2 separate regions of the Homo sapiens genome follow, and region 2 is linked to region 1. The links come from fine-mapping of genetic effects on gene expression. A gene starts in region 1. The other region holds a variant in brackets. All regions are shown on one strand. Distances are from middle to middle.

Evidence for each region. PIP is the estimated chance that this variant, and not a neighbour inherited with it, causes the effect.
Region 2: its variant is the best candidate, but not a certain one, in a credible set for the expression of LINC01827 in prefrontal cortex (CommonMind, PIP 0.53).

The regions. Positions count from the first base shown.
Region 1 is chr2:195,573,138-195,575,958 of GRCh38, reverse strand. It overlaps LINC01827 (long intergenic non-protein coding RNA 1827), which reads left to right and starts at 1,466. Exons shown (of 2, transcript NR_187191.1): 1 at 1,466-1,635.
Region 2 is chr2:195,520,733-195,523,553 of GRCh38, reverse strand. No RefSeq gene overlaps it. Among named protein-coding and RNA genes, the nearest start is that of LINC01825, 11 kb to the left of the region's middle. RefSeq lists enhancers at 1-103, 104-605. The variant T/G (reference allele first, on the strand shown) is at 1,548.

The DNA.
Region 1 (2,821 bases):
AGCACTTTAGAAACCAGTCTCAACAAATTAAAAAAAAAAAAGGACTTCAAAAAAGGGAACCAAGTTGATTCTTAAAACAATCTGTGCCACATTAAAAATAATAACAATAAATAAACTTGGAAGTTCAAAGAGTAAAACTAAAACAGGGACTAAAGGAAATCATCTTTGTTTTTTGCAGCCAATGACTGTGCAGACCTGATGCTGTCTTGTTCTTGTACCAAATTCTCCTTGAAAATACCAGAGACCTCTCTCTGAATGGCCATAACATTATACCCTAAGGGAAATAATTTTCTCCAACATTTCTCATCTTTTGTAAACAGATGGCATATATATATTTAATATATATATTTATAGATATATTTATAGATATTTATATATATTTATAGATATATTTATATATATATTTAAAGAGAAAGAGAAATACCAACAGTCTGCCAACTGTGGAATTCTTATAGTCCGATAGTTTCTTTTTGGTTATTTTTTCACAACTAAATTAACTAGTGTTGCTGCCATAGATACATTTAAGAAAATCAGACACTTTGCTGCTTTTACATATATCTGTCTGAAACTCAGCAGGAATATTTCAGTTGCCTTAGAAAAATATCCAGTTAACAAACTTTGTGAAGTGAAAAGAAAACCTTATCAAAATCTCCAGCTTCAAGTACATTTAGTTGTTTTCTTTTTATTGTTGCTTACATGCTGTGATTGGAGCACAATATGTGGAAATTGCATAACCATTATTTCCACAAATCAAAGCTATTGAGACATGGGAAGGCCATGTGGAGCTGCTGCATGAAATGTTGGTTAAAAAAATTCCACTCTGCCTTTATATCTAAAGTCTTCCCTTCTTTCAGGTATCAATGGTTTCTTCAGTCGTAAGCATCACTAGGTTGTGTTTCGTTTGTTTAACTGCTTTTAAAATCAGAATTAGCCATAGGTCAAATAACATTTTTTGAAAAACATTTTCTCTATGTGTCTTATATTTTTCCTTAGTTCTACTTTGTTTTGTTATTTTTAATATTTTGGGGGTAATCTAGGCAAAGAGCTCTTAATTCTTAATGCATTAGAACCATCAAGAAACATTCAGTGCAATTTCCATGTCTCAGGGGAAAGTTTTGGTGTCCTCACCTCGATCCATTCCCAGGTTTATGGGGACTAGGGAGAATCCTTTCACTATTATTTTACATTTTAAAATATACCTAATCAAGTGCAGTGCAGTGCAGTGGTGTATGCCTGTGGTCCCAGCTGCTCGGGAAGCTCAGGAGAGAGCATCACTGGAACCCAGGAGTTTCAGTCCAGCCTGGGCAACACAGCAAGATCCCATCTCTAAAAAAAGAAAAGAAAGAAAAGAAAACAGTGGCCAGTCAGATGGCTATGTAGGTCAAAGACAGCCTGACTGAATCATATGAGAGGGAAGAAAAACACTTGTCATTCCTAGCTTTCTGTGTTCCTCTTTTGTTCCAGCAGAGCTTTGGTTGTACTACTCTAATACCCATACAACACTGCTTTCCTTAGAGCCACAGCTACTGCTGAGAACTCAAAAACTTCTTCCTTTCCGGTGAACACGTCTAGACTTGGGCTGGGGATGGGATGAAGATCTCTAACACCTTCCTGGAAATCAAGAAGTGCAAATAGGTAATTTTCCCTTTTTTTTTTTGAGATGGAGTCTCACTCTGTCGCCCAGGCTGGAGTGCAGTGGTGCAATCCGGCTCACTGCAATTCTCCCTGCTTCAGCCTCCTGAGTAGCTGGGATTACAGGTGCCCGCCACCACACCCAGCTATTTTTTTTAGTTTTAGTAGAGACGGGGTTTCACCGCATTGGGCAGGCTGGTCTCGAACCCCTCACCTCAGGTAGATCCGCCTGCCTCGTCCTCCCAAAGTGCTGAGATTACAGGTGTGAGCCACCGTGCCCAGCCTGGTAATTTTCTTAAGAGAGAAATAATGCTTTGTTTTGAGATGTTCTGCTGGGGTATTCTGGTAGCTCTTTCAGTGCTTAAACTCATTCCGAGTCTGCACAAATGGCATAATATTTAGCTGTGCTTTGACACTCTTCAGCACCTGGAATATAATGAGCATAAATATCTTTTTAGGTTTCTAGATCAAAGATTGTTTTCTTCTATAATGTTTCTCCTCAAAGAAGTGTTTCACTGTTCTGTAAAGTAAATTTCAGAGATTATAAGGCCAAAATAGCGATTATAGCAAAAGTCTATGATCAGTTACATTGTCTAATTTTGAATTACAGTGGCAGCTTTTCTTTTATCTTTAAATTTGGTGCCATTTCTTCCTATCATTTCCACCCCTGGGATTTTTCTGGTTAGAGATGTATATAATTGCCTTTCTGCCCACATTCCCTTCTAAAAGAATCTGTTCCCCTGCTGAACAGATGGGCCTAGTCATCTATGTTTATATCATATGACCCTACTCCCTGGTTATGATGATTGGACCAGGGTGGGGAGACCTACTCTGAGAGTCGATCCATAGGTTAGGCCAAGCCAACTAGATGATATTGTTTGAAAAAATTTCACTGAGACACAAAAGTCATAGTTAAGTGATGAGAATTGGAGTTGTCGGGTCACAGGTATTTAGTGTGAGACCTCTATGGCAAGCTTCAGCTACATGAACATTAAATTATGAGGGAACCCAAAGTAAAATCCTTACATGTGGAGCCAGCCTACAAGAGCAACCTAGAATAGACATGCAGAGAGAAGCAGTAGCAAGAGCTTACACTGACATTTGTAAAATCCCTTCTCACCATCCAGAGCCTTTTCTACTTTAAACAAACAGTATGTTTTTGAGCATGGCTTGGGCTGGATTGCCCACC
Region 2 (2,821 bases), 52 kb after region 1:
AGGTGGAGCCTACAGAGGCAGGCAGGCCTCCTCAAGCTGTGGTGGGCTCCACTCAGTTCGAGCTTCCCTGCTGCTTTGTTTACCTAAGCGAGCCTGGGCAATGGCGGGCGCCCCTCCCCCAGCCTTGCTGCCGCCTTGCAGTTTGATCTCAGACTGCTGTGCTAGCAATCATCGAGACTCCATGGGCGTAGGACTCTGAGCCAGGTGTGGGATATAATCTCCTGGTAGGCAGTTTCCTGAGCCTGTTGGAAAAGCGCAGTATTCGGGTGGGAGTGGCCCGATTTTCCAGGTGCTGTCTGTCACCCCTTTCCTTGACCAGGAAAGGGAACTCCCTGACCCCTTGCGCTTCCCGAGGGAGGCAATGCCTCGCCCTGCTTTGGCTGGTGCACAGTGTGCTGCATCCACTGTCCTGCACCCACTGTCTGGCACTCCCTAGTGAGATGAACCCGGTACCTCAGATGGAAATGCAGAAATCACCTGTCTTCTGAGTCGCTTACGCTGGGAGCTGTAGACCGGAGCTGTTCCTATTCGACCATCTTGGCTCCTCCACCGTGAGTTTTACTTTAAATGGACCTAAAAGAACTCTGTTGATTCAAGCACTATGTTGTTGTTTTTCTTTGATGATAAAGAAAACTATGCAAACAGAATATGCCCGCCCTTGGACTTAAAGCAAAAAACTTGCCTTCTAACAGATCAGTTTGTGACAGCCTCTCAAGTAAGACTAAAACTTGGTTCTGCTTAACAGTAATTGGCAGATTCCTGGGATGTGTTTCCCAGCCATTCATTGTTAAAAGAAACAGACTGTCCTGCTCCATCCTGTTTCATTAGCCAATTAAGATGTCAACCTTTGGGTTGTCAAAATCATTAAACATATTTGGGTAATTATGAGAGGACAGAGAGCATGACTGGCATAGAAGAGAAACGATGGTTCAGAAATTGAACTTAGCTTTCTTCAGACATAACAAAACTTAAAATTAATTAAAATTTTTGTTATTGGTTTTACCATCTATAAAAATTTGGAATATATTTTTAAAAAGGTGATCCTTTTATTTCCCTGTTTCCTTTTTGTTCAAGATGAAAAACAAGCATAAAATGAAAGTGTCCCTGACAATTTCGAAATCTAAGAACAAACTGGAATTTTGTGTATACATGTGCAATATGCAATGCCTAGTTCTCTGTGGTGGGGGAATGGAGATATTTGCTGATTTTCTTCTTACCAGATGTGAGGATCTTGAAGGTGGGCCTGAAGGTGGGCTTGAAGATGGCAGAGCTCAGAGGCTTATGATGGACCACTGCTTTTTATGTTAATAAAATATCATTAATGTATTTTTCATATCGTACTTACTAATTTTAAAGTCATTTCTATTCTGTCATCACTGCTAGGATTATGAACAGTAGATTTGCATTTGGAACTGGAAAGGCCAATGGAATCCTGGAGTTGGAATAGTAATTTCATTTTAAACCACAGTCATTAGTTACCCACGTATTGTTTGAAGATGTCTGTCATATGATTATTTAAGGACATTTAAAAACATATCTGAATAACT[T/G]AAATGGAGTTATATGTGTCAGTATCAATAACTTTTAACTACTTTCTTTTCTAGACTAGCATATACCCATTATACATTAAAAATGTGAAATATTTAGGTTTCCTTATTAGAGTGGAGAGGTGAATACTAATTCTCAGATGTGTTTTGTGATAAGGTGGCACTCCTTCTTAAGCATTGCCATCAATCTTAAGCCGGGAAATTCACCTCTAGAAAGCGTCAAATCACTGGCTCCAAATCAAATTCTAGCAAGTATTCCCCATGTAATCAGCTGTCATCCTCAGTGACAAGGAGGAGACAGTGCTCTGCTTTCACTTTATTCCTACTTGAGAGCCCCAGCTTGAGAGTCTGGATAAGGCTCAAGGACGGAATGGGGAGTCTGTCTTCTATAAATAAAGAGAATAAAATTGCTGCTTTTTTCCTCTCCTTCCTCACCGCTACCTTGTCTGTCCCCCAGCGCATTCTTATTTCTCCCCAATGTCAATGAAGTTTGGTAGAAAGTTGTCTCTCATCTTAGTGTGCTATCTTACTTCGCTCAGCCTTATTTTCATCCTCTCTTCATTCATTGACTTATCCAGGAGCTTCATCTCTTTACAGAAAGGAGTGGGTACACGGGCAGTTCTCTTGGGAATTCTGATTCATTCACCATCTTGAACCACCTTTCTGTTGGGTTGTTGGATGTGACCATAGATGCTGGTCACATGCTTCTTAGCTCCCCATGTAATGAAACTTAACACAGGGCCAAGCAGATTTCCCAGACAAGGCTTTTATTTTGGGGCTTGTGCTCAAGGGCAAGGGAGACAGTGGAGGTGAGGTATGAGGATCCTCAAGCTGGCTCCCCAAAAAGCTAGTAGAGACTTTTTAATCAGACAAAGCATGGGGAATTGACACAGGGGTAAGGTATGCAGGCTGGGCTGGGAGAAGCATGTGGGGGTTAGGGTATGCAGGTCCATATGTCTGGTCCCGATGGTTATCTTGAGTAATGGGCCACCTGGTGGTCTGGCCAGCGGCAAAAAGGCTGCTTACAAATCATTCTTTCCCAAGGTTTGACATTCTGCACTTTGGTTTGATATTTAGGTTTCCTAAGGCCAGTTCCTGGAATTCTTTAAGTAAAAGGCATAGGTAAACATTATGAGAGCACAGGAGAGTGGCTATTTTCTTTATATGACTAAAGCCTTAGGGTTAGCATGTGTAACGTCAGCGAGGTGGTGATGTGGATTTTGTGATCAGCAGGAATGTATGAAAGAATGTTCCACCAGCGGGGGTGGTGGGGTGGG